7 linked regions of the Homo sapiens genome follow. The protein of the gene in region 3 purifies or fractionates together with the protein of the main gene of each other region. This does not show direct contact. Each region holds a gene or a part of one and is shown on either strand. Other genes may lie near its edges. The genes, in order: CARNMT1, SHPRH, DTL, CCT6B, PANK4, COPS3 and UBE2E2.

Region 1 (3,938 bases), on a different chromosome or scaffold from region 3:
TGTTGCTGCTTGGAGCATGCCAAACTTAAAGGCCACATAGTTAAAGATAAAAAAATCATTAGTAGGAGTAGATTTGGAAATTGGATTTGATTTGTGAACCAAATTTAGGAAATACAGTAGTGAAGTTTCTTTTTACTTCCTGACATGATATTAGCTGATTGTATACATTTTCCTTTGGCTTCTTATAAGACTACAATTTTAGTTTCCTCGGGATTATATTGATTTGCCAAAATTCCTGAGAAAAAGCCTTGTTTTGGTAAAACTTTTAGTGGTTTGAAAGTGGAATGATGGATCTTACGTGAAGGAAATATGTAATGGCAGTGTGGTGCTAGTAGGTAGAGATCAGTTTGGTTGTGAACCTCTGGTTTGGTGTAATATATTTGTTATCATGTATGTTTAATTAGAGGGCCGTTTCCCATTTTCCCCATGAAAATATCCCCTCCCCCAAATTCTTCTGTCAACTAAAATATATAGGGATTTAGAGATATACCTGACACATTAAACTCTACATCTGTTTAATCTAACATAAACAATTGAGTTACATATAAAATTTAGAAATAAAGTTATGTTGTATTTATTGTCCCATATGATGAAGTACTTTTGTTCAAACTCTTCATATTTAATTGGGATCCCTTTGGAATAATTTGTCTTTCTAAGATAGTTGTTCAGGGTGACAGCTATTAGGAATATGAGTGACTTTATAAGTCTTGAGATGTAAGGGGACTCCTTTTTTCTGAAAAATAATTTTTGAGGGGTAAAACCCTCATCTGATATCGGAACATACATAATAATTCCTTATACCTTTTATTTTTGATATTTAGAAGTATTTCTTGATTGTGAGAAGTCAGAGTCTTAGCTTATTCTTATTGAGTAAATGAGTAAGTTTTTAGTTGTTAATGTGGATTTTGTCTTTTCCTTTTTTTCTTTGAGGGGTTGGACATAATTGCCTTATTTCATTTCAGGGATCCTTCTAAAGTAAATATTCTGGTACCTGGTGCTGGACTAGGAAGACTGGCCTGGGAAATAGCTATGCTAGGTTATGCTTGTCAAGGAAATGAATGGAGTTTTTTTATGCTCTTTTCTTCCAACTTTGTACTCAACAGGTATTTAATTTATTTTTTGCTGGAAATAGTAATTTCTCAGAATCAGATTGACTTACCTATTTTCTTGAACAATTTTGAATTTGAAGATAAGTACATAGCATTTGATTATTATATATATCACAAATGTGTCTTATGTTAAAATCAAAGTACTTACACAAATTATCACTTGAACCAATTGCCTAGTTATTAGAGTGTTGAAACAAGATGGGTAAGTGACTTTATAGAAAGTGACTGGGCATTCCATGAAATGATTTCTGTACAAAATCTTCAGGACTAAGTATGAACCAGGAAGGAGTATTTCTAAATTTATTCCTTAAGCTTCTTTACTTCCTTGTTTCTTTAGTTAAATAAGAGTTTAGTTTAGCAATTATAACTTTTTCTCCTTAATCAAGTTCTTATAAAATGGCCAAGTATGCTCTCATGACTGAGTTGGAAAGATCTCTCAGAACTTCTGTGGCCTCTTTTGGAAGGCAGTGGAAAACAATTGTTATTTTTAAAGCCAGAAGATGTACATTGAGTAGCTGCCTTGTTTAAATAATATGTTGTCTCGGATGGCAGTATGAGTTTTAGGGGATTGGTGAAAAAGGGAAAAAAGAAGAGGGTTATACAAAAAATAGCAAACTGTTTTAGTTGAAACCAGTACCATTTTAAAAAACCTCGTTGGACTGTTATTACTTGGTTTTGAAGTTTAGAAATACATTTTTAAAAATCTGAATGAACAGCACATTTATATCTCTGAATTTACTTTTTTTTTCTGTCTTTAATCCATTGATTGGTTGCTCATCTACATGTATATGTACATTTTCAGATAATTAGGGAAGCTGTAATAGTGACTCTTTAAATATTAATTATATATGCAAATCTTCAATTAAACAGTATATTTTTAGTATTTAAAGTGGATTTTCTTGGTAAAATATTTAGTTAACACCTGATTTTATACTCATATTTTGCAGATGTTCTGAAATTAATAAATATAAACTTTATCCTTGGATCCATCAGTTTAGCAATAACCGGAGATCAGCTGATCAGATTCGACCCATCTTTTTCCCTGATGTTGACCCCCACAGTCTTCCTCCTGGTTCTAACTTTTCTATGACAGCAGGAGATTTTCAAGAGATTTATTCAGAATGCAGTAAGTCCAAATCAAGCGTTTAAAAAGTCTTGTCCTTTATTCTAAATTTAATGAGCTAGTTTTATCCTAAGCCAAGGTTTAGATCATTCATTTTGATGGTAGAACATAAGGCATATGTCAGTGTCAATTTAGAATGTTTTCAAGGTCGTGTACAAGGCAGTGATAGGAAATAAGAAGTGTAAGATATCTACAGTCAAGAAATTTAGAATCTGTTGGGCCCATTAATACTAAGAGATACCATGTAAACAAAGGTTAAATGAGTAATGAATACCAAAAAAATGAAAGGTTATTAGTGTAAGAAGGAAGCTGTTCATAGTGAGGCTATGACTTGAAGGTTGAGAGAATAGCATTTGAGGCAGACAGAAGTACAAAGATATGAACAAGGTGATTGGGGATGGCAGCACAGCTGTACTGGCAGGGAAAGAAAAGATTTAATGGGAGATTTAATGAGATTTAATAGGAGCTATTGCTAGAAAAGTGAATTTGTTCCAGATCATGGAGGACTTGTATAGTCAGGCTGCACAGTTGACTTCAGCCTGGCAAACTGTTGAAGAAATCTGAGCTAGGCAGGAGAGAAAGGGAGATGGTAATAGGGAAAGTGGAGAGGGAGATTGGCACTAAAAGGAAAGCAAAATAGAATACCGAGGGTTCAGCAAGATCATTGAGTCAATAGGTATTTGTTGAGCACCTACTAAGTACTAGGTATTTTTCTAGGTGTCAAAAGAGAACAGTGAACAAAACAAAATCCCTGTCCACAGAGAACTTCCAATAGAGAAAGTGAGGCAATAACAAATACAATATTGTAAGGAAGAAAAAATAAGGCAGGGAAGACGGGTTACAGAGTGACTGGGGAGAGGCTGCTGCTTTATATAGAGTTGTCAGGGAAAGCCTTTCTAAGAGTAGAAACTAAAAAAAAAAAATGTCTAGTAGAGAACCTTGAAAGAGTACACAGACAAACCACTGAGATATTTGAAGGCAAAATTTTGCAGATGGGGAATGGCAAGGGAAGAGGATCAGGGAGTAGAGTGAGTGCTTGCTCTGCTCAAGGAGGAGCTAGGCTGTAGTAAGCAATGGGTACAGTGGTGAGAGGTCAGCCTCGAGAGGGTTTGATGAGGCAAACTTGTTGGCAGGCCATAGCAAGGACTTGGAATTGTACTCAGAGAAACAGGAAGCCATTGGAGGGCTTAAAGCAGGGATAGCAACAACATAGATTGTTTTTATTTATTTATTTATTTTACAACATAGAAAGTTTTTGTTTATTTTTCTCTGAACTCTGAGACTGGGACAACCTGTACTCTGAAGGAAGAAAGGGAGAGATGGAAGATGTTAGGTGTTGTGGATAAGGAATGAAATAATGGAAAACATCACTTAGGCAAGTAAAAGTCCCCTTTTTCTGGAGCAAGGTTTGAGAGAACAGATGATGAAGGTAGTCCTCCATGGGATCAAGTGCCTTTATTGCACCAGCATTTGTATAGACACCATACCTCCTAGAGGCAAACGGTGTTCTCTACTGGGTTCCCACCCACTGCTTCTGCCTGCCCCTGGCTCCCCTTTTTCCCTGGTAATTATTCGAAGTTGTGGTAGATGTTGAAGTATTTGGATGTCATTCATTTCTCAGTTGGCAACTGGTGCCTGCAGTCTTTCTGAAACCTGCCAGAATTGGTGGTTAACACTAGTTTAAATTTGAATGACTATTATTTTGT
Region 2 (3,938 bases), on a different chromosome or scaffold from region 3:
TCCATTTGTGTTGTAAGTAAGAACTGAAGACCTCTGCAATCACGGAACCTGATTCCCACACCAGCACCACACACAATACAAAGAAAAGAATAATAGGTCAATTTCCTCAAATTCAGAGAATGGTTGCCAAACAAAGTGTTAAAGAAACTGTTTGCTGTTTTTTTTTTTTTTAACAGCAACATTTGAGTGAGTTTTCCTTCAGAATGTATTCAAAGTATAATATTGGGCTGTCTACCGTAAAAGATACCAAAAAAATTTGATAGTCCTGTGCTCAGGAACTGAAAAAGAGCATGAAAAATGTATGTCTGTCTCAGATATCTTTGAAAGTGTACGACTGCCACATTCTTCCGTTTTAAGCCTGACTACAGATAGCCTTCCTGACATCCTTGCTCTATATGAGGAGGTGCCTGCAGGATGAAACATAAAAGCAGAATATTGGGAAGAAAGAAGAAAAATGGCTAAGAGTTATATTCCTTGGTTGAATATATATATATATGTATATATACTTAATTAAATCTGTAATTATGCACTATATACGAGGCACTTTGCCAAGCACTTTTCCTGTATAATTTCAATAGTTACTAATGTGCTCACATTATGAAGTGTAAAATATTAAAGTAACTAAAGTAACAAAGGTAGGTCGCAGTTAGGAGTTAAACCCAATTATAGTACCTATAACCATTTTGATAAACTGTGAATAAAAAAGGCTGCAAAAAAGAAGTATGAATGTGTCTGTATAGGTTTATGAATGGAGAAAAAAAGCCGGTAATAATGAGAAATTAGAAACTAGAAAATACAAGGATTTCTTTGCTTTTAAAATTATGAGTAGATACTTTTTCTTCCTGTTTTCTTACTTCTCTGACATAGAAAGCTTGCCAGTTTGTTGCTTGTAGTTGCTGGTTATTTCATTTCGCACTCGCTGAACTAGCTCCTCATCAATAGTAAATTCTATTGCTCTGTGGATCACATTTAGCCACCAAGGAGAATTAGAATGAATCTGTAAAAAAGGTAGCAGTTAATCAATTAATACATTTTTTTTAGTACTCACTAAGCTTCCATCACTGGGCAGGGTGATGCCAAAATTCAAAGAAAGTAATAAATGCTATTCTCAAAGGGACTATCACAGAGGGGAGACGAGTATACATATTCCATGTACAATGCTCGCTTCCTCTTTTGAAAATATAATTAAAGAGAAACCCCTATTTCCTAACTACTCTGGATAAATGGGAATTTATTGAATGCATTTATATAACAAAGCTGTAACTAAAAAAACTGTTTACGCCAAATGAAAATTCAATACTCAATCTATATGTGTGAAAAGGTCACAGGTCTCTTTATCAGCATAAGAAAGAAAGCCTTCATTCTAATCTTTAACTAACTGAACCAGATTCTACTTAATGAATAATCCACAATAACTCACAAAATTATATCCCAGAATACTAAATAATGAATGAATTAGAAAGACAAAAATTTGCAACACCTGATTTAAAAACTGAAAATAAAAGTGTATTTGTGTAACCTCTTTAGATTTTGCTGCTGATTTCATAAAACTGAAATTTTAGAAATGACAAGTGGTATATATTCTGCAGGAAAAATACCTGTGGTTCTAATGTATTAACATTTTAAAACATCTCAGAAACAAGATAAAAAGGAGGTTATAGAAGTCTTTACTTTCTTCAAAAGACAACTGTTATATACTCATGGTAAGAGAAAACCCATGAGTTCAAAAGAAAGAGAACTCAAAATAGTTGACTTATTTATGCATCTGTTCACTCAACCAATAAATCATTGCTAACAGTAAAATAAACTTGTATTGTGGGTCAGGCAATGTGCTAGGTGCTAAGGATTTCAAAATGTATAAGAAATTCAAGTTTCTCCCCACCAAAAAACCAAAACTCAAAATGATATCTGGAGGCAAATACAAGTAAGAAACACTGCATTTTGGCATACCTTTCTTTGAAGCTCATGGATGGTCTGCTGCACAGGATATAAAGCTTGCTGGGCTTCAGCAACTTCTGTATTACACTTGCTCATGTAGTGCTCTCGCAGCTGTTTGGCCTGTGTTGAAACAGAGAATATAAACTTTCACTCCCAATCTAGAATATAATTCAGTATGATGTTTCAAGAAGAATGGGTCATTTTATACATTTAAAGCTACTTAACTGCATTTAAACATAAAAGTCCAAGTATACTGTAGAGAACATAAAAGTCACGCTAAAAATTCCTTATATATGGAAGTTAACAAAATTTACTTGTCCAAGTAACAAAATTTCAGAAACACCGAATATTTGTTTGCCAATTTCTTATTTAATTTTTTTTTTTAGTTAGAATAAGCAAAGAGGGGAAAAAAAGAACAGTAATATTTCAAATGATAGGCAAAGCAAAGACACCTTTCTAAAATTTGGCTAATTTAGTTATTAAAATTCCTTAGTTACTGCAGTTTAAAAATAATCCTTGAGAATACACAGTAACACAGGTGTTAGGAACTGAATTTTGTTTCCCCAAAATTCATATGCTGAAGCCCTAAGAAAGTAGATTTTAAATGTTCTCACTACACACACACACACACACACACACACACATGCATGCAATAAAAATAAAGAGGTAATTGATTTAGTTTGATTTAGCTATTCTAGTGTCTACATACATCAAAACATCAGTCTCTACTCATGAATAGATAAAATTTTTGTTAATTAAAATAGTTTACCAGGGCACCTCCGCCCCCAAAACAACCAGTGCAAAAAGGCTGTGCTTATTTATATAATCTCATTTTTTATCCTGTTGACTCAAATAAAGCCTCCACTTACAGGTTCAATACATTTCAAACATACCTACTCTTTTGATTTTAGCTCTTTAATGTTTAACAACAGCAAAAATCCCTGGAAGAATCTGCATAATAAGCTATTAACAATTTATAGTAAAATAATTTATAATATCACTCTTTTCGATGTCATTCTTTTCAAAAAGAGGCGACACTTTTTGTAGAGGAAACTTCTTTGGGAGAACTACCACCAAAAATTTGACTTTATTTACCCCCTTAAAAAATACACAGAAATGTGGAGAAAGTGCAAAAGTTTGTATATTTACTAAGCTACCTCTTTTGTAGATCTGCCATGAGATCAAAGTTTCTTTTTTAAAACTCATTTATTTACATCCCATTCTGTTGGCTACCAACAGCCATATCTACAACAAGCATTTATCACATAACTGCAGGTAGATCAGCAGAGAAGCCAAATAATACGTACTGCTGCCATTCTCTGCTACCCAAAATCACAACAAAATTCGAAACATCAAAGTAACAGGAAAACATGATTACATTTATTTGTATGTTGTATGTCCTAGGATATATCAACTATATGGAGCATAAAGTTTGAAGAAAATATACTTTTATAGACAGAATGAAAAAAATAATTACCTCTTCCTCAAGTCGGCCATCACGCAAGGTAGGTGGTATCCCTGGGTGCCTGGCTATCAACAATTCCATCAAGTTATGGGTAGCATGAAGTCTCTACAAACATATCAAAGGCAGTAATTATGACAGTCAATGCAGAAGACTCTGAAGAGAACCTAATATTAATATGGCACACAGAACACTAACACCACATTAAGATCATATCACCAAATACTTTTCCTATAAAAAAATCTGAGTACTACTACTTTGTTTTCTTTACTCAAGGGCAGGGTGTTAAGGTCTAGGACCTGCCTTTTGTAACCCTTATCCATGCAGAATATCAGATTTATATTTAATTTTTCCTCTCCCTCCACTTTTCCATATGTTCCTCTAAATATCCACTCTGGTACTTGTGAACATGTTAGTCAGTCCCAAGGTCAATATTGTGAATGGTAATGACATCTTACCTGGGACTCAAACCTAAACTTGCCAAAATTAATAAACCCATTTCTACTTCTTATTTAGCTAGAGAGCCTTGTCTATATGA
Region 3 (3,938 bases):
ATTCAACATTTTGCATTCTTTAGTCTTTATCTTGGTTGCAAGCCTCATCTCTCACTGTTCTCGATACCTTATTCCAAACAAATTGGTCACTTCCTATTATATCCTATGCTTTTCTATCTCTAGACCTTTGCTAATGCTTTTCCCGTCACCTGGAGTGCCCCCTTCCATTTCCACTGGTCTAAATACCATAATCCAACTCAAATGCCCCATGCTTCGTAAGTTTTCCTAGCCTTCTTTACTACATGAGAGCTTTCTCTTTGACACCAGTGTGTTTTCTTTCTACTTCTACATCATTTATAGTCTTTGTTTTATTTCAGTTATTTCAACACTTGACTTATGGGTTCCAAATTATCAGCTTCTTAAGGTTAGAACTTTGCTTTAAACATGAAAAATGCTTGATTAATATAAGTATTTTAAAGCAACACTTCTCTAATCACATTAAGTGTTAAAGATTTAACTTTTTGAAGAATTGTTTTTAATCCTAAAAAGTATTTTTCTTAACTTTGAGTAAAGGCATTGTCACAGTTAACAGTTATTGACAGATAGGCAGTCCACCATTCACATCTAATCTGGTCCCTAAAAAGACTTAATCAGAAGTTAATATCATTGGGAATGTGTTATATATACTACAGATGTTTGTCCCTTCCCAAATCTCATGTTATAATTTAATCCCCAAAGTTGGAAGTGGGACCTAATGGGAGGCATTTGGGTCATGGGGGTGGATCCCTCATGAACAGATTAACGCCCTCCCTAAGAGGTGAAAAGATGAGTGAGTTCTCACTCTATTAGTTCCCTGGAGAGCTGATTGTTAAAAAAGAGCTTGGTAGTACACCCTTCTCTTGCCATGTGACCTCTGTATTCATGGGCTCCTCTTTGCCTTCTGCCAGGAGTGGGGGCAGCCTGAGGCCTTCACCAGATGTCTACTATTCTAGCCAGCAGAATCACACACCAAGTAAACTTTTTCTATATAAACTACCCAGTCTCAGTTATTCCTTTATAGCAACAGAAGACAGACTAAAACAGAATGTGTTCAAATAATAATATACTTGAGGATGTGTAAAGTTTTTTAAATGTTAAAACAAAAATTGTAGACCTAGACTTACCTTTGAAGCACTTCTTTCTGAAACTTTGTGATTCTGTGTTATACAATCGAACAAAGCCTTCTTCATTGGCAACTGCTAGTACATGTTCCATATTGGGAGCTAAAGCAGAAATAAAGAAAAAAATATATAGAGTAACACAATTTTTTTTTTTTTTTTCAGACGGAGTCTTGCTCTGTCACCCAGACTGGAGTGCAATAGTGCAGTTTGGCTCACTGCAACCTCCACCTCCTGGGTTCAAGTGATTCTCCTGCCTCAGCATCCCAAGTAGGTGGGATTACAGGCATGCGCCACCACGCCCAGCTAATTTTGTATTTTTACTAGAGATGGGGTTTCACCATGCTGGTCAGGCTGCTCTCGAACTCCTGACCTCAAGTGATCCACCCACCTCAGCCTCCCAAAGTGCTGGGATTACAGGCGTGAGCCACCATGCCTAGCTACAAAAATTTTTAAGCTTACTCAAAACCACCAAAATTTTCTTCAGATAATCTCTTATTTAGAGAAGGGCTAAATCGAGGGTAGTACTTAAAACAAGAGTGGTACTGGCCAATGGCAAACAAAGGCATATGATGATGTAGGCTGCCAGCAGGCTGAGTCTATTAGTTTTTTTAACCATATTTTTATTTACTTATTTTTACCACAATCATGACTATGTAATAGTCTATTAGTTTTTGAGAGACAGTCTCGCTATGTCACCTAGGCAGGAATGCAGTGGCGTGATCTCAGCTCACTGCAACTTCCGCCTCCCAGGTTCAAGCGATTCTCTTGCATCAGCCTCCCCAGTAGCTGGGACTACAGGCATGCACCACCATGCCCGGCTAATTTTTATAAGGAGTCTATTAGTTTTAAATTTCCTTGTCACAACTTTTTCTTTCCTCTCAAACTATTATGGGTGGAGACAAATACTTCTATTTCTTTTTTTTTTTTTTTTTTGGAGATGAAGTCTCACTGTCACCCAGGCTAGAATGCAATGGCACGATCTTGGCTCACTGCAACCTCTGCCTCTCAGGTTCAAGTGAGTCTCTTGTCTCAGCATCCCAAGTAGCTGGGATTACAGGGGTGCGCCACCACGCCCAGCTGATTTTTTGCAATTTTAGTAGAGATGGGATTTCACCATGTTGGCCAGGCTGCCTTGAACTCCTGACCTCAAGTGATCCACCCGCCTTGGCCTCCCAAAGTTCGGGGATTACAAGTGTGAGCCACTGTGCCCAGACCTACCTTGGCGTCCTAAAGTGCTGGGATTTTAGGTGTGAGCCACTGAGCCTGGCTGAAGTACTTCTATTTCTGTTCATATATTCCCCAATGAGTCACAGAAAGATACATTCAACCAGATCAAAGGGTATGTATCTACTGGATAAAACAGTTTTCATAGTAGCTGAACCTTTGCAACCCCTTCCTTATATTGATTTTTTAAAAATAGTGCTATAATAGTCCTATGCTTTAGAGGAAATATAGTTATGCTAATGATGTATAGAGATTAAGAAAAGTCTATTTTATAAATCAGAAGATAACAGTTTTTACAAAAACTCTAACATCCACCTAATTTACTTTTCTTTGAAAGGGAAATACTCTAGTATATTTTCCCTATAAGTGTGAAATAGATCATTTCTGTCCAAGCCTTGCCTAGATAGTAATTCTCTTACCAGAAGAGAAGGTACATCCAAAAGGAGGAACTGGGACTCCTGTTTCTCCATAAGAAGTGTGTTCATCATTACCACTGCACTGATAACCAGTCAGAAGGGATTGAAGAGGGTATTGTGAAGACCATCCTAAAACAAGATAATTCCTTATAGAATTCCAATACAGCATCACATTTCAGCATTTTTAACAAATTCAGAGGTAAATATTTGTCCTTAAGAAACTTTAGATATTAACATAGATCCACTTACTATTAATATCTATGGAAGACACCATTTCTGTTATTTCATTAAGGAGTCCTAAGGAAAAAATGAAAGAGCACTTCCAACTTCTGGGGAGGTATAGCTTTGGGCTTACTATCTAAAATGGAGACTCTCACTAGTACATTGAGATTAGAAGAAACAAGAGGCCTCTGCATATTAAGAAAGATCTTCCCCCTTCTCCTACCAAAGAGACAACCACAAAAGCATTCCATTAAAACTGCTATCCCCTTCAATTAAATTCTTATTCCAGAACATCATACAAAATCCAATGGTCAAAGAGCCAAAGAAAATAATATGTCAATGCAGCTACTATAGCCAGTAACATATTCACCAAATTTACTTCTGTTTTCCTTTAGTGCTGAAATTGTAGGAATCTAAAATGTCAATAGCAGCAATTATAGTACCTTAAATTATATTAGAGAAATTGTAAAGTGAAGTGTTATGTACCTACCCCTAGAAAACATTTAATTAGCCCTGGCTAGTGGTAGTGGGTCAGGGAGTCTTTACAGGAGGTCTTGAAAGATGGGTAAATTTTCACTGAATTTAGAACAGAGAACAAGAGACTCAGGGTAGAAGAAAAGTTTATTCTGCTTGGGTCAGAGGTCTAATGTGCACTATGCTCCTACATAGTAAAGACATCTTCAGAGATTTGTTTTTATTATACTGATTTGTGATCAAGACATTTTAAATATATAAAATAAACATTCATTCAACAAGTAATTACTGAAAACCAAATGTTCAATAAGCATTGGAGGAAACACTGAGTTTACAATCTATTGAAAGCATCTTAAATAATTAACAAACTCACATTTTAGGGTACTCTGAATCCTCACTTTTCATCAAAAGTACTATGTGGAGAATACATCTTAGCCTGACATAACCTCAGACAAATCTACATTTGGATGTTCATAGACATAATCTGAATGAATCAACAGAA
Region 4 (3,938 bases), on a different chromosome or scaffold from region 3:
TGAGCTGCCTTTTATGCTTCATGATATTGCTACTTTTAAGCCATTTATTTTGTAGAAAGTCCCTCAGTGTGGATTTGCCTATTTCCTCAATTAAACTTAGGTTACAGATTGTTGGCCAAAATACCATAGAACTGTTGTGTTCTACTGAATGCATCATGTCAGCAGGCATGTGATGCCTGTCTGTCTCATTATTGTGATGTTAACTTTGATCACTTGGTGAAGTGGTAGACACCACAGTGTTCTATCTGCCACTTTTCCCCAATTCAGTGGTGGTTCTTTTCCTCTGCATTGAAAGGAATCTTTTTATGTGTGCCCATTCAGAAGGGCACCACATAACAACAATGTAGTCATAATTTTTGGAAATAAAAAGGACTTCTGTAATTTTTAATACTAGACTTGAAGCCTTACTGTTAAGGTTGAGATTATTTCAAGTATGAAGCACTAAAATGACTTTTATAAATTATGTACACTTATATTTCATGGCATTAATGTGAGTAACTTTTTTTGAACATAATAATCAGACAGGTTGGTTACTTTTACATTGGGTGACTTATTTTATAATTTATAATTTTATGTTGATGTAACAGGGCCTGCACCCTAGAATAATAGCTGAAGGATTTGAAGCTGCAAAGATAAAAGCACTTGAAGTTTTGGAGGAAGTTAAAGTGACAAAGGAGATGAAAAGAAAAATCCTCTTAGATGTAGCTAGAACATCATTACAAACTAAAGTTCATGCTGAACTGGCTGATGTCTTAACAGAGGTATGTTATTAAACTTTTGCATTCAGAACAAATATAGCCTAATGCATGGTGATATTTTTCTTTTTCTGTAAGATAATCAAGTATTTCATGTGGTTTTTTGGGCATAAAATATGGAAGACAGACAATTATTGTATAGGCCTAACTGTAGATTAGATTTGACTGGTCAGAACAGTATTTGTAATTTTCAGAAGTATCATACTAGGCCTTTTTTTAAACGTGACTTGAAAGGTGGGAGAGGTTTGGCTGCCTGCAGATCATCTCCTGTGGAAGCTCTTGAATAGTATACTGGTCTTTTTAAATCTAGCAGTCCATATTTTATTATGTGAGGTGACACACAAGATAGTTGTTTTAGCAGTGTACCTTGTAGATAAGGTTACCAATATAATGAAATGTGATATGATATATTAATATATTAATATTCACATATTGGAAATGTATGTTTGTTTAGTTTATTTCTTTTATTAATTTATTTGAGACAGAGTCTTACTCTGTCACTCAGGCTGGAGTGCAGTGTCATGATCTCAGCTCACTGCAACCCCCGTCTCCCAGGTTCAAACGATTCTCCTACATCAGCCTCCCGAGTAGCTGGGATTACAGGCGCGTGCCACCACGCCTGGCTAATTTCTGTATTTTTAGTAGAGATGGGGTCTCACTATGTTACCAAAGCTTGTCTTGAACTCCTGACCTCAAATGATACACCCACCTCGGGCTTCCAAAGTGCTGGGATTACAGGCATGAAGTCACCACATCTGGCCAGTGTTTTGTTTATTTCTAAAGGTAGAATATATGTTATATAGGCTGGGCATGGTGGCTCATGCTTGTAATCCCAGCACTTTAGGAGGCCGAGGTGGGGAGACGACCTGAGGTCAGGAGTTTGAGACCAGCCTGGCCAACATGGTGAAATCCTGTCTGTACTCAAAATACAAAAATTAGCTGGGCATGTTAGCAGGCACCTGTAATCCCAGCTACTTGGGAGGCTAAGGCAGGAGAATCACTCTGGGAGGGAGGGGGAGGTTGCAGTGAGCTGACATCATGCCATTGCACTCTAGCCTGGGTGACAGAGTGAAACTTTGTCTCAAAAAAATATATATATATATATATATATATTTTATATAAAGACAAGATTGGCTGGATATTTTGGGAAGGCTTTTATCAGGTGGCAATGATTTGATATCATTATTGTTTTTCAGCTTTGTAATTTCTGAAACTTGAATATATTTGTTTACCAGGAAGAATGATAAATTCTTAGGAAACAAATTCACAAGACATTGACATACAAAGCAGAATACTACCTTAATAATTTACTTTGAGAACTACAAATGCCAAATGTACTGGAATACTTGAGTTGTTTCTGATCGATTCTCCTTACCGTTAAAAAAAAACAACTTGGGAAATCAGATTAAGATCAGACAATTTCTTGATGAGCAGAGTCAGAAGAAAGGCTCTGCTGTGTTTTCTGCTGTTAGAGTACTTGAATGGCCCCAAATCTTCATGCTGCTAGGGCACCCATTCTGTTTTAGAGTTACAGAAACAGTGATATTCTCACTATCCAATGGCCTTTGTCCTATTTCTTATTTGCCTCTAAAATAAAATATTATGTCACCTCAGGCAAAGTTTTCTAAGATACAGTTTTTTCTGCTTTATGTATATTTTAGGGTAGTTATAACTTAGCCCTTAATTTCTGCAGTTATTTATTATTTTTATATCATTTTCTGAGCTAAGCAATAAGACGTGTTGTGCTATGCTTCTTAAATTGTATATCCCTGGTCATATGTGACAGAATAAATGAGACGTAGCTTTCTGGAGTGTCAATTTTACTTTACAATTTTGGGGGAAAACATTATTTTTACATTGAGATAAACATATTATGGGATGACATGGAAACTTTTCACGATAAAACATGAGACTTTAACGTTTCCTGTTATTACAGCCAGCAAATTGGAGCTATTACCTTAGATTACCTTTCCTTCTTTTCCATTAAGGTGTCCTTTGGTGGAAAAGTTTGGATAGTCTTGGTATGATAGAAAGAGTAGTCGCTGGGCAGTTAGGGAGCCCTGAATTCTAGTCCCGGCCCTGTTACTAGCTGTTAGATCTTATTTAAAAACTGTGACTTCTTAAGGTCTTATCTCAGTTGCCTTATCTGTAAAATAAAAGGTTTGGACCTAATGATCTCTGAAGTTTCTTTAGACTCTAAAGTGTCTGTTGGCATTGGCTATTGTTAGCATCCATAGTAAAGTGGCACATATTGGTCTTGCCCTAGGTTTTGAATCCTGAAGGCTTTTATCTCCTTAGTCTGGTGATAGATTGTTTGGGCCCTTGGTTTATTTTAGTAGTCCAAATAACTTAACTGTTCTCATTCATTTCTCTTTCAGGTTGTGGTGGATTCTGTTTTGGCTGTTAGAAGACCAGGTTACCCTATTGATCTCTTCATGGTAGAAATAATGGAGATGAAGCATAAATTAGGAACAGATACAAAGTAAATTACATAAGCTTTGACAACATATGGGTTCTAGAATTTTTTAAAGATATTCTTTTATTAAATTCATTACTTACTTTTATTCAACATAAATATATTCATTCACCATATATTAAGTCACTGCTCTAGGTAATGGGAATGAGAGTAAACAGAACAGAATTTCTTTCCCCAAGAAGTTTATGTTTCTAATTGAAATAGAAAAAAAATCATGTGTGTGATTTTATAGTGGACAGGGAAGACTACTCTGATAAGAACCTGGAGAGCTAAGAGGTCTCTGAAGAAACAAGGGAGCTAGCCATGTGCACATCTGGAATAAGAGGGTTCTAAGCAGAAGGAATGACCTCTGAAAGGGTCCTGAGGCAGAAGTGTGACTAGGTTGTTACAGTGTGCCTGGAGCACAGGGAGAGGAGGTGAGGCAAAAGGGACCAGATTATGGAGTACCATGTTGATTTTGGATTTACTCTTTTAAAACTTTGTATTATAGAAAACTGTGAACATATATAGAGAGAACAGAATAGGGAATTTCCACATAACTGTTAGCTATCTTTATCAATTTCTAACATATGAAGCATACCCTTCCCTCTTTCCCCCTCCCACCTAGGATTATTTTGAAGCAAATCCAGACATCATATACCACCTGTAAATATCATATAATCCATAAAACATAAACCCCCTGCTTTTACCTAATATATCCACAAAAC
Region 5 (4,602 bases), about 210 Mb from region 3:
GGTGGGGGTGGGTTGGTTTCTGCAAGATACGCATCCTCCCTCCCTGAGACCCCTGCACGGAGAGGCCCAGCAAGGCCAGTGTTCCGTCTGCCTACTCCCCACACCCGGGGGGACAAAACGGGACCTGAGGCGCGAGGGGCACGCACAGCAGGGAGATCTGTTAGAGCAGAGGGAACCGCCTGCGGGCGGGGACCCTTCCGGGCTGAGCTCAGGGACCCCTCGGAATCACAGCAAACCGCGCCTGGCAAGGCAGTGACAGGAGTGCCTCCTGGCGGCTCTCCGGGCTGCCCGCGCTCGGCCCTGAGGCCAACAGCTGGTGGGGGAAGGGGGCTTCCCAGAGGTTTGGTCACCTGTGCTCTTCACATCTGAGCCATGGCCTTCTAGTTCTCCCTGTCCCACAGGCCCCATCCCCTCTGCCATTCTCTCTGGTCCTGTGTTTCCTCTTTGGGCACCAATGGAGGGCAGGACAGCCAAGCAGACACCACCGCCCCGTGGCCCCTTCCTGTCTCACCTGCCTCTGAGGAACCCTCCCCACAGCCCGCAGAAACCTAAAATCAGATCGAAGCTGCAGTATGTTTTGAGAAATACAACGTCCCTGCTGCTTTCAAAGAGGTGAATCTGCTCAGCAGACATCAGCGTCCCATCGAGAGGAAAACAGCTTGCCAGAACACAGGGCAGGTGAGCTTTCCTAGATCCAGACACAGGCAAGGGAAGAGGAAATGGGAGAAGCCTGCTTTTAAACAACACTGTTGACAAGCACTTTGGCTTTGAGGGTTCCTGGGTTGAAGACACCCCACCCTGAGCGTGGCCTCCCAGCAGCTCGGTCAGGAGTAACAAACAAAAGGTCTCTCAGTATCAGTCAACAGGTCCTCTTAAGAACCAGAGACACAGGACCCAGACGCAGGGAGAAACTTTGAAGAGGGGAAATAAATACCAGCACTAAACAGACCTCTTAGAGTATCCTTCTACCAAGAAACCCCCTGGGCTCAGCCTGGAGAACAGGCTGGTACTCCAGGGCCCTCTAGGGCTGCGACAGCCCTTCCTGGACAGCCCCAGCTCTGCGGCTTCACTGGCCTCTCGGGGCCACACAGAACATCCACGGTGAGCCCTGTTCTCCTGGCCATTCCCCAAGTGACTTATGCAGGTCAACTGCAATTGCATTTCAGAAACATTTAATCCCGACTTGCTTCCAGTAACAGAATCCCCCAGTGTAAGGGCAGCAGAACCTTGCAGAGCACACGCTCTACCGGGCCTCAAGGTCTCAGAAGGCTGGGAAGCATGGCTGGGGAGCCTCTGGTGAGGCCTGCGGTAGACAATCCCCTAGGCTAGGGCTGCAAGCTCAGCACCTGCAGCCCAATAACCAGTCAGTCCCAAGTCCTATCAGCGGTCCCTAAAGATGCTACTCACACGTTCTCATACCTGGCACCAGGCCACACCCCCTAAGAAGCATTGCCTCCCATAAGCTCACTGAAAGGTGGGAGCCAGGACCTATAGCTACTTCCATTCTCATCGCCCCCCACTTCCCTAGAGGACACCCTTCCCTGGCTGGACATCTCAGAGAGATGATGACACCAACAACCCCGAGGACACCACAGCAGCAAACATGTCAGATGCACCAGGAGCACACAGCTCAGAGGGAATGGCCTGGGTCTCTCTGAGTCCCAGCTTTTCCAGGGAGGTGGGAAGCAGTCAGCGGCAGGCCCATTCATCCCAGTATTTACTGGGCGGCAAAGACAGGTTGGGCATCCTTTTCGGGGGCTGGGGCTACAAGACACACCGCTGCTCTTGTGGGATTCACACACAAGCAGACTCAGCCTACGACCGAGATGAGTGCTAAGAGGGAGAGGTATGTGAAGCCGCAGCGGCTATTCAAGGGGGGTTTCTCCAGGTGAAGCTGCCCCCAGGAAGCCCTCATGCCTGAAACATGGGCAGAGTAGGAGAGCAGGGAGTGGCTGGTTCAAATCCTGGTTCTGCCACTTTCTAGCCCGATGACCCTGGGCAAATTAGTTCACCTTTCTGGGGCTTGGTATCCTCATCTGCGAAAAGGGAGTAATTCGCGTTCCTCCCCTAGAGGTGGCTGGGAGGTGTCCGGGAGTCAGGAGCGTGGGAAAAAGGTCTAGAACAGAGCCTGGCCCGCCGTCATTACTGAGAGCACAGCCATCAGGCAGGAGGGTCTGCAGCGGACCCTGGAGAGGCCAGGGCAGAAGTGCAGGCCGCCTTAAAGGCCACGGAAGGCACGGGTGGCTTTTAAACCAGAGGCACGAGTTCCCAGGTCCCACGTCCACGGCCGCCTGAACTCACGCCCGGCGTCCACTCTCCAGAGAGCGGGGCCTGTGCACGGACTGTCCGGCCCGCGGGCCACAGCTGGCCACGCCGCGGGAACGCGCGGCCTTTTCGGGGCCACTCTGCCAAGGGCTTCCCGCCGAGCTCGTCCTCGTCTCGACCAGAACTAAGGACCCCAAATCTCAGGCCAGCCACCAGCCAAGCGGCGGAGCCGGGGCGCCCAGATGCCGATGTGGCCGAAGACATAAAATTCCGCCGACCCTCCCACCTCGCGGCGGGTAACGCTGGACCCCGGCCCCCAGCCACCCAGGACGGCCGCGCGAACTACCAGGCCCGGCAGGCCCCGCTCTGGTCCCTGCGGCGCCTGCCGGTAGCTGTAGTCCGGCCGTCGCCCCGAGCCCGCGCATCAGCGACCCTGCGGACTACAAGGCCCGTGAGGCTGTGCGCGGGCCCGCGGACTACAAGGCCCGTGAGGCTGTGCGCGAGGCCCGCGCCCCCGCCCTTCGTCCTTCCCGCCGCCCCCGCTCGCCGGCCCACCGCCGGCGCCCCGCCCGCCCCCGCAGCCCGCGCCCGGCGCCCGGCCTGCGGCTACCTATGTCGATGGCGAAGCGCTTGGCGTTCTCCAGGTTGCGGAAGATCTCGTCGGGGGGCAGCGTGATGCTCTTGTCCAGACTGTCCCCGCTGCTCCCGCTGCCGCTCGCTCCACACTCCGCCATTTTGAAAGTGCCCGGCCAGCTCATCAGCCATGGAGATATATGCGCATATATTTGACTGCCAAACGCCCCCTCGCATAGATTATGTTAATGAGGCGCCGGCCCCGCCCCTTCCCTCCCCCACCCCCGGCCTCTGAGGTCTCGGCCGCTACAGGGCGAGCTAGGGCCAGTGCTGGGCAGGGGTCCGAGAGGCCCGGGGCTGCGGGCGGGCGGGCGGTTATCCTCCAGAGATCGCGCATCAGCACAGAACATCTGGACTGATGTTCTTTTACCGCGCTGTCCACAGGCTTAACTCAAGTGCTCTGAGCCCTGCTGAGGGAGGCCGCAGAGGCCGCCCACCTGCTTCTAAGGGGGCACGTGGGTCTGCAGACTGTCAGAGAGCCCTGCCCTTCAGCGAGTGCCTGCTGTAAGCTTGGCCCTGCACGCCAGGGCGAATGTGATGCGCTCTTTGCTAGGGTGACTCAATCCTGGCTTCCCAGGGGCGTGGGACTTTCAATGTTAAAAGTCCCATGCAAACCAGAGGAGTGGGGAACCCTGCCCCACCTGGGAGGAGCCCCAGCCTGGCATGCACCTGCGGGTAGGGAAGATGTGTGCTGTAATGGCGATCCGTGGAAAGTGCTGTGGTCGGGGGAAGCCAGGCAGGCTGCCTGTGGGCAAGACAGGTGCCTGGGAGGCTGCAGGAACAAGCCTTGGAAGCAGCTGGAGCCAGGACAGGGGTATAGGTGGGGCAGGCCAGGGTTCCAGGGTGAGTGGCTGGGAAGCCCTGCTGGCATGAAGAGATGCGTCTTCTCCAGAGGCTCTGGGCGCCTTGGGAAAAAGCCCAGTGTTGGAAGCAGACAGATCAGCCCCTCCCGGGTAACCCGGGGTCATTACTGCATGTCTCTGGCCCTCAGCCTCTGTCTGCACGTGGAGAATGCCACCAGCTGCCTGGCAGGGCTCCTGGGAGCACAGGCCTGTGGGGCGGCACAAACTCCAGGGATAATGCATCTGTGTGCGCAGGGCAAGCCTTCAGGGAGGAGGCATCCTTGCCTGTGTCTTCCAAGGGGGTGGGTGTGTGGCTCTGGAGGGGGAGCCTGCCCCAGGGAGGCCTGGGTGGAAGAGTGGAGCACACCCCAGGCGGCTTAGACCTCTGGCAGCTCAGACCCCTGGCAGCATGGTGTGCCATGGGCCAGGCTGGCAGGAGGTGCCCTCCATGAGGGGCGCCCACCTGTGTGCCCACTGAACATGCGGGAAACATGCAGGTGAATGGGGGCCTTCCCTGTCCTCTGCCCACCATACCCCGGGGCTCGGTAGGGACCACTGGCAGGCACTGGGTTGGTCTGGTGGGGGGACCCTGTCTAGACTGCCTGTGGAGTAGCCAGAAAGGGGCTGAAGGCTGAGCGGAGCGAGAGGGGCTGAGCAGGAAGGAGCAGGCAGGGCAGGCCCACACACGGGGCTACCATTCAGCGGGGGTGGGAATGCGGCCCACTCCGGCCCAATCCTTGCTGGATGGATTTTGCCCCTTGGGAGCTGGTCCCTGGGAGCCACAGGCCTCAGTTCTTGCAGACTCAGCCAACACCCTGTGGCCTGCCTAAAAATACATGCCCTTTCTGAGGCAAGGGATGGC
Region 6 (3,938 bases), on a different chromosome or scaffold from region 3:
TCCAAGCACTTTGGGAGGCTGAGGCAGGAGGACTGCTTAAGGCCAGGAGTTTGAGACCAGTCTGAGCAACATGGTGAGACCCTGTCTCTACTACAAAAAATAAATTAGCCAGGCGTGGGGGTACATGCCTGTAGTTGCAGATACTTGGGAGGCTGAGGCTGGAGGATCACTTGTGCCTAGAAGGTTGAGGCTGCAGTGAGCTATGATCATGCCACTGCACTCCAGCCTGGGTGACAGAGCAAGATCCAGTCTCAAAAAACAAATAAATAAGAACTAGAATCCATGAGATTTTCCTGACCTGGTTATTTTGCACAATCACTATACAGAACGGACACAAATAAGGGTTAAGAAAAATATGTTTAGGCCTGGCGCAGTGGCTCATGCCTGTAATCCCAGCACCTTGGGAGGCCAAGGCGGGAGGATCACCTAAGGTCGGGAGTTCGAGACCAGCCTGATCAACATGGAAAAACCTCGTCTCTACTAAAAATACAAAAAAATTAGCCGGGCGTGGTGGTGCATGCATGCCTGTAACCCCAGCTACTCGGGAGGCTGAGGAACTGCTTGAACCCGGGAGGTGGAGGTTGCAGTGAGCTGAGATGGTGCCACTGCACTCCAGCCTGGGCAACAAGAGCGAGACTGTCTCAAAAAAAAAATCTATATATATCTATATATATATATATATACACACATACACACACATATGTTTAATAATATATATTAAATAATAAACATGTATATATTAAACATATATGTTTTATATATATATATATGTTTAATAAGGAACAACTTTCAAGATGAAAAATTCCACTAAATGAAGCCAAATAGGCTGGGCATGGTGGCTCAAGCCTGTAATCCCAGCACTACGGAAGGCCAAGGTGGGCAGATGGGCAGATCACAAGGTCAGGAGTTCGAGACCAGCCTAGCCAATATGGTGAAAACCCATGTCTGCTAAAAATACAAAAATTGGCCAGGCACGGTGGCTCACGCCTATAATCCCAGCACTTTGGGAGGCCAAGGCGGGTGGATCACCTGAGGTCAGGATTTCAAGACCAGCCTGACCAATCGGGTGAAACCCCATCTCTACAAAAAATAGAAAAATTAGCCGGGCGTGGTGGCAGGTGCCTGTAATCCCACCTATTTGGGAGGCTGAGACAGGAGAATTGCTTGAACCCAGGAGGCAGAGTTTGCAGTGAGCTGAGATCGTGCCACTGCACTCCAGCCCGGGTGACGGAGTGAGACTCGTCTCAAAAAAAAAAACTCCTTTATGTTTATACAAATCCTGAAAATTTGTTTTAAAAAATGGCCATCTCAATTGTGGGGACTATAGTTTGCATTTATCTGAATACTTTTATCCATGTAATCCACAGGAATGTCCACATTTTCTAAATTAAAAAGAAGTTCGGAGGAGTACTGCCACAGGGCATGGCAGAATACATTGAATGAAAATATTGGCTGGGCACAGTTGCTCATAATCCCAACACTTTGGGAGGCCAAGGTCGGAGGATCATTTGAGGCCAGGAGTTTGAGACCAGCCTAGGCAACATAATATGGCCCTATCTCTGCAAAGAATAAAAATATTAGCTGGGTGTAGTGGTACATGCCTATAGTCCTAGCTTCTCAAGATGCTGAGGTGGGAGGATTGCTTGAGCCCAGAAGTTCAAGGCTTCAGTAAGCTACAATTAAGCCATTGCACTCCAGCCTACATGACAAAGTGAGACCTTTTCTCAAAAAAAGAAAAAGTATCAAAGATCCAAAGCAACATTGCTTAGAATTCCCTTCAAACAAATTTAAGCTATTTAAGACCAAATTAAATAGACCTTATTTTAATTGGGGTTCCTTGTAACCGTGTACTTGACAGTAGAATTCTTTTTCTCTTGATGTTATAGTATTATAAATTGGGATATTGTGGTTGTCATGACATTTGAAATGATATAAATAAACTGAGAAGAAATTGACTTAAAGTGAGAGTCTGGCTTCACTTACGCTGGGATTCCTGAGACAAAGGTATGTGTCCGGAGCAGAGTTTAGAGAAGAAGCTTTGTCAGAATGGAAGGATCTAGAGTTATGCTCTGCAGTATGGTGGCCACTAGCCATATGCAGCTATTTAAATTAAAATTAAAGATTCAGGTGCACTTGCCATGTTTCAAGTACTCAGTAGCCACATGTGGTCACATGTCCTTGTCTTAGCACAGGTTTGTAACATTTCCACCACTGCAGATAGTTCTATTGGACAGTGCTGGTAAGGATTTCTACTGTCTGTATTTTCTTATTTATATGAAAGAGCAGATGCTGGGCACAGTGGCTCACACCTGTAATCCTAGCACTTTGGGAGGCTCTGTTTGAGACCAGCCTGGGAAACATAGCAAGACCCCATCTCTACAGAAAAAAAAAGTGGCCAGGTATGGTGGCTTATGCCTGTAATCCCAGGACTTTGGGAGGCTGAGATGGGCAGATTGCTTGAGCTCAGGAGTTCAAGACCAGCCTGGGAAACGTGATGAAACCCTGTCTTTACAAAAAAACACAAAAATTAGGCGGGCGTGGTGGTGTACACCTGTGGTCCTGGCTACTCAGGAGGCTGAGGTTGGAAGATCACTTGAGTCCATGAGATTGAAGCTGCAGTGAGCTGTGCTCATGCCACTGCACTCCTGACTGGGTGACAGAACAAGACCTTGTCCCCCCAAAAGAAAAAAAGTTAGCTGAGTGTGGTGGCACATGCCTGTGGTCCCAGCTACCCAGGAGGCTAAAGTGGGAGGACTGCTTGAGCCTGGGAGGTCGAGGCTACAGTGAGCTATGCTTGCACCACTGCACTTCAGCCTGAGTGACATCAAGACCCTATCTCAAGAAAGAACAGAGAGCATGCATGTTTTATACACACATAAACTCACATAAACATATATATCAGGTGAGTAATGGACATGAATGCATTTTGAAGGTATAAGGTGTTTACCGTTGTATATGTTAGATAAGGTATGGAAAGAACCCTGAGCTTCTGGCTGAGGACCCTGGTTTTGAATCTACATATTCTTCCAATTTTGAGTTGTGGGGCCCTGAGCTTCATATTTTTATTTATAAACTGGCAGTCGCAATGCCTCACTGACCTATTGTGAACCCCAGATGAAATTGTTTCTGACATGTCTTGATAATTACAAAGTGTAAATACAGATGTATGGTGACATTGTTAAGTCAAATAATACAGTATAGATGGAAGCAGATAAACCAAAAGATGTAGTAGAAATTATGATTAGCTTTTCTTTTTTTTTTTTTTGAGACAGAGTCTCACACTCTGTCACCCAGACTGGAGTGCAGTGGCGTTGTCTCAGCTCACTGCAACCTCCGCCTCCCAGGTTCAAGCCATTCTCCTGCCTCAGCCTCCCGAGTAGCTGGGACTACAGGTGCATGCCACCACACCCGGCTAATTTTTGTATTTTTAGTAGAGACAGGGTCTCACTATGTTGGCCAGGCTGGTCTTGAACTCCTGAACTTGTGATCCACCCGCCTTGGCCTCCCAAAGTGCCGGGATTACAGATGTAAGCCACTGTGTCTGGCCTAATTTTTCTTGAAATTACATTTCAATCGTGCTTTTTTTTTTTTTTAAAGAATTTGAAATTTACTTACAACCAATGCCTTAATAGTGCTAAGTTTACATGATTTCTCCCCTAAAACCTATCACCAGTGCCTCCTTGGAGTGTTTCTCATGGCAGTCTGAGTTACTTGGGAAGGATCACCTGAGTCCTCCCTCTTCTCACCACTCTACTCCTCTTGTCCTGCCTATCAGTTGTTCTGTCAGTGTTATTCTCAGATAGACCACACAGCTGGTGGCAGCATCTTTAACTTAAGCTGCTGCCCACCTCCAGCCAGCCCATAGCTCTCACTCTTGGCCCCCTTAGTATGTTCTCAAAGCAGGAAAAGCAACAACTGATTTTTTTTTTTTTTTTGAG
Region 7 (3,938 bases), on a different chromosome or scaffold from region 3:
TTTGCACTTAATTATTTTCGTAGTTATAAAACTGATTTGCACTTAATTATTTTCAGTTGAAGTGTTTTACAAATGATATGGTCATGTTTCACAATTACATGTAAGCAGCATACAGTGGTGATCTAGCTATCACAGGGCAAAGGTAGGATGCACTAATATTACGTTTTAAAAATAAAATTTAAGAAGGAAAAGGTTTCTAAATTACAGCTAATTGTAACTAGTAATATAACTAAAATAGTAAATTGTAACTACTATAATTATACTAATATAGTTCTATGAACTGGGCATGTTATTTATATAAATGCCTTAGTTTATGTTTTAAAACTGTGTTATAGGCCGGGTATGTTGGCTTACACCTGTAATCCTAGCACTTTGGGAGGCCAAGGCAGGCGGATGACTTGAGGTCAGGAGTTCAAGACCAGCCTGGCCAACATGGCAAAACCCTGTCTCTACTAAAAATACAAAAATTAGCTGGGTGTGGTGGCGGGCACCTCTAATCCCAGCTACTTGGGAGGCTGAGGCAGGACAATCGCTTGAACCCGGGAGGTGGAGGTTGCAGTGAGCAAAGATCACGCCACTGCACTCCAGCCTGGGCAACAGAGCGAAACTCTATCTCAAAAAAAAAAAAAAAGAAAAAAAAACTGTTATAGAATAATATTTATTTTCTTTGTATTAGTACTCTCATGCTTTTTGGTGTTTGAATATTATAAATGTACAAAATCCTTAAAATAACTGGAATCTAACAAAAGTTTTCTTTGAAATTTTTTAGAAGTCAGAGTCAGTTTCTCCCCATGAACATTCCTGTAGTTGTATCAAAAGTAAATTCAGTCCCTAAAACATTTGTTAAATAACAGGACTCTTTATAAGAAGCAGAATGTCATGGTTTTGCTGTTGATGTTTATTTCTCTGTGCCCAAAATGACAAATTCTAAAATGATGATCTCTGTTGATTAATCTCATGTGCCCAAGAAAAAAATCAAGTGTATGTTAACCAATAGCCTGGGCTATTTTGTCTGATAAAATAGGCAATTTTATTAGACAAAAATTGTCTATAGATACTGTTAATAAACACTTTGTCTAACAAAATATAACTTTACATTTTCTTGTAGGTTACCTTCCGAACAAGAATCTATCACTGTAATATTAACAGCCAAGGTGTGATCTGTCTGGACATCTTAAAGGACAACTGGAGTCCGGCTTTAACTATTTCTAAAGTTCTCCTCTCCATCTGCTCACTTCTTACAGATTGCAACCCTGGTAAGAGACTTTAAATCTAGTATGAATTGGAGCTTGTCAAGATTTAAATGTCAGACCCTTAGTAACTTGTTTACTACTGCTACTACCACTACCACCACTGCTTCTACTACTATTATTGTTAAATTTTCATAGTATGTAACTATTTTCTTTTTAAATTGGGTCTTCTCATTAGTGTTTTTAAGACCTATCATTTGCCAAAAAGGAAAAAGTATAGTGTGGTAAAAAAAATAATGAAAAATCATTTTAGATGGGAAAGTACGTTTAAAGAATGAATTAAGTTATCCTGCCAAATAATAATAAAAATTCAAGTTGAATAGCTTAATCTTTAATTAGATGCCTACTAGAAGATGTTAATTTGAGGAATGTGGGCTATTAAAATCTGATAACAACCAGGCAGCACCATGCAGACGTGACCTTTTTGGCATCCTAGTAACTGTGCATCCTGACAAGCTATTATAACGGTCCTGAATGGTCTGTTCTAGGAAATACCCCAAAAGTAAACAAGGAAATACACCTCCCAAGAAAACGAAAAAGTCTATAGCCAGGCCTTTATGGCTTGCTGGTGTGCTTACCACTGAAAATTCTTAATTCCTGGGCCATGTCTTTACAAATTGGGTTTATTTTAGAAAATACAAAAATCCAAAGATAGCTATAGGGTTTTCATTGATGTTCTCAGTGGGAGAATTATTTTATGAGTAATTAATAGCTTAAATATTGCATGAGATTCCCTCTTCTACAATCATGAGTAAACTCTGTTCACTGGATACATGAAATTTTACACAAATGGAAATGACGAGTATCAGTGGGGTTGCTTAGGATCCTGGCTGTTTTATAAAACATCAAGAAATAACAGTCTTTCTACTTTTATATTTCTTTATTTTTCAGCAGTAAAATCTTTTTTAAAGTAGCAAATTAGTATTTTTTTTTTTTTTTTTTTTTTGAAACTGAGTCTCACTGTGTCACCCAGGCTGGAGTGCAGTGGCACGATCTTGGCTCCCGCAACCTCCGCCTCCTGGATTCAAGCGATTCTCCTATCTTAGCCCCCCAAGTAGCTGGGATTACAGCCGTGTGCCGCCAAGCCCAGCTTATTTTTGTACTTTTAGTAGAGACGGGGTTTCACCGTGTTGGCCAGCCAGGTCTCGAACTCCTGACCTTGTGATCCGCCCGCTTTGGCCCCCCAAAGTGCTGGGATTACAGGCATGAGCCACTGTACCCAGCCTGCCCAAAAAATAAAATTGTGCAGGATCATTATAAAATATTTTTTGAATTAATTCATACTTTACTACAGACAGTAAAGTCCAATAATGTTATACTAATTTAAAGTTAATTTTGTTCTTTCAGTCCTGTTGTTCCCATTTTAATCCCATTTGTCTGTGACTGTGTATAACCTTGTATAACCTCATTTGGAGGTAATGTTGCAAGAAGGCTTTTTTTTTTTTTTTTTTTTTGAGGTGATTTCGAAGCCTGGCCTGCTTTGCCTCCAAGTCAGCTGAAATGGAATCTGTTACCCTGAATAAGCCTGTATATGACAGCCTGTTCTCTCTACAGATATTCCTGCTTAAAGGAATAGATTCATTCCACCAAAGCCTTCTCTCAGCAATCAAAAAGACTTCTGTTCAGTGAACTAGTTTTTTTTTTTTGCTCCGTTTCAGAAAATTACAAATGCATTCTGCAAAAACTTAAAAATCACTCCTAACTAAAGCAGAACCACATAAGTAAAAGAAATAGATTTTGAAATAATGCTATTGATAGTAAGAACAAGCCTAAAAATAATGTTCCATAAAACCAAAGACAGCCTGCCTCATATGAGACTAGAAGAGAATTTGTAAAATACATGCTAACATTTAGTTTATCACACTTTTTAACACATAAAAATAAAGTTTCCTAATTGGTTTTTATGAATGTTGACACTTCTAGAATCTTAAATAGAGTTGTTTATTTTAAAGTAGTCAAATGTCCATTCTTTTGCTTAATGGACTTATTTCACACTGTTATCTGGTACACTTTCAATCTCTGTAGGTTTTTTTACCTACAGAGGTAGGAAAGATTAGGTTAGATTGAAGTTTATCTTAAATCTATCTTCAAATTATCACAAAAACAAGTTTGATAGAATAGGAATAAATAAGATTTTCCTACACTGAATCTGTAGAGCTATTTTAACCCGGAAATGCTGTCACCTCAAAAATAGGCCTTGTATAATGATACAAATTTAACTCACTTAAAAAATACTTTCTCACTCTTATCCATACATAAACTTATTTTCTAAATCTTTTTCATACTCTTTTTGTAATTTGCACTTGTCTCTTTAAAGAATTTTTGGTCCATTCCAACACAGATGTTCTTTAGGGTATGACTACCCATCCTTATCAGCATGATATTTGTAGACAGCAGATGTAGATTTGAAAACCAGTTTAATTGTTTATTAGTCATATCACATTGGATGGGTCACTTAACTTTCCACAGGCTTAGTTTTTGATATAAAATTGGGATTAGTACCAGCCCTGCCTAAATCACTGGATTCCTCTGAGGTTAAAATGAGATGGTATATGTGAAAGCCATTTATAAATGGTAATGTGTTGTTGATATTGTTACCCAGAGTATTTGGGACACCAAATGGGCCCACAATAGGTGACCGATAAACACCTACTCAGTTGAATTTAACTGGGGAGATAGTATCGAATA

What was found.
Region 1: the proteins of DTL (region 3) and CARNMT1 purify together in Homo sapiens (affinity purification with mass spectrometry; 4 studies listed by BioGRID and IntAct, with this or other methods). This does not show direct contact.
Region 2: the proteins of DTL (region 3) and SHPRH purify together in Homo sapiens (affinity purification with western blotting, with the first as the bait; 2 studies listed by BioGRID). This does not show direct contact.
Region 4: the proteins of DTL (region 3) and CCT6B purify together in Homo sapiens (affinity purification with mass spectrometry; one large-scale study listed by BioGRID and IntAct). This does not show direct contact.
Region 5: the proteins of DTL (region 3) and PANK4 purify together in Homo sapiens (affinity purification with mass spectrometry, with the first as the bait; one large-scale study listed by BioGRID). This does not show direct contact.
Region 6: the proteins of DTL (region 3) and COPS3 purify together in Homo sapiens (affinity purification with mass spectrometry; 2 studies listed by BioGRID). This does not show direct contact.
Region 7: the proteins of DTL (region 3) and UBE2E2 purify together in Homo sapiens (affinity purification with mass spectrometry, with the first as the bait; one large-scale study listed by BioGRID). This does not show direct contact.

What each region holds. Positions count from the first base shown.
Region 1 is NC_000009.12:74,996,895-75,000,832, reverse strand, and holds part of CARNMT1 (carnosine N-methyltransferase), read left to right. Parts: exon of another isoform or gene 1-956; intron 957-962; coding exon 963-1,103; intron 1,104-2,056; coding exon 2,057-2,235; intron 2,236-3,450; exon of another isoform or gene 3,451-3,513; coding exon of another isoform or gene 3,514-3,578; exon of another isoform or gene 3,579-3,938.
Region 2 is NC_000006.12:145,922,789-145,926,726, forward strand, and holds part of SHPRH (E3 ubiquitin-protein ligase SHPRH), read right to left. Parts: intron 3,509-3,938; coding exon 3,416-3,508; intron 2,059-3,415; coding exon 1,951-2,058; intron 998-1,950; coding exon 855-997; intron 49-854; coding exon 1-48. UniProt on the Homo sapiens protein: E3 ubiquitin-protein ligase involved in DNA repair.
Region 3 is NC_000001.11:212,041,924-212,045,861, reverse strand, and holds part of DTL (denticleless protein homolog), read right to left. Parts: intron 2,870-3,938; coding exon 2,744-2,869; intron 1,203-2,743; coding exon 1,104-1,202; intron 1-1,103. UniProt on the Homo sapiens protein: Substrate-specific adapter of a DCX (DDB1-CUL4-X-box) E3 ubiquitin-protein ligase complex required for cell cycle control, DNA damage response and translesion DNA synthesis.
Region 4 is NC_000017.11:34,951,249-34,955,186, reverse strand, and holds part of CCT6B (T-complex protein 1 subunit zeta-2), read left to right. Parts: intron 1-587; coding exon 588-761; intron 762-3,133; coding exon 3,134-3,237; intron 3,238-3,938. UniProt on the Homo sapiens protein: Component of the chaperonin-containing T-complex (TRiC), a molecular chaperone complex that assists the folding of proteins upon ATP hydrolysis.
Region 5 is NC_000001.11:2,523,589-2,528,190, forward strand, and holds the start of PANK4 (4'-phosphopantetheine phosphatase), read right to left. Parts: upstream 3,009-4,602; 5' UTR 3,000-3,008; coding exon 2,876-2,999; intron 2,605-2,875; exon of another isoform or gene 2,013-2,604; intron 1-2,012. UniProt on the Homo sapiens protein: Phosphatase which shows a preference for 4'-phosphopantetheine and its oxidatively damaged forms (sulfonate or S-sulfonate), providing strong indirect evidence that the phosphatase activity pre-empts damage in the coenzyme A (CoA) pathway.
Region 6 is NC_000017.11:17,271,176-17,275,113, forward strand, and holds part of COPS3 (COP9 signalosome complex subunit 3), read right to left. Parts: intron 1-3,938. UniProt on the Homo sapiens protein: Component of the COP9 signalosome complex (CSN), a complex involved in various cellular and developmental processes.
Region 7 is NC_000003.12:23,531,446-23,535,383, forward strand, and holds part of UBE2E2 (ubiquitin-conjugating enzyme E2 E2), read left to right. Parts: intron 1-1,108; coding exon 1,109-1,256; intron 1,257-2,707; coding exon of another isoform or gene 2,708-2,769; exon of another isoform or gene 2,770-3,938.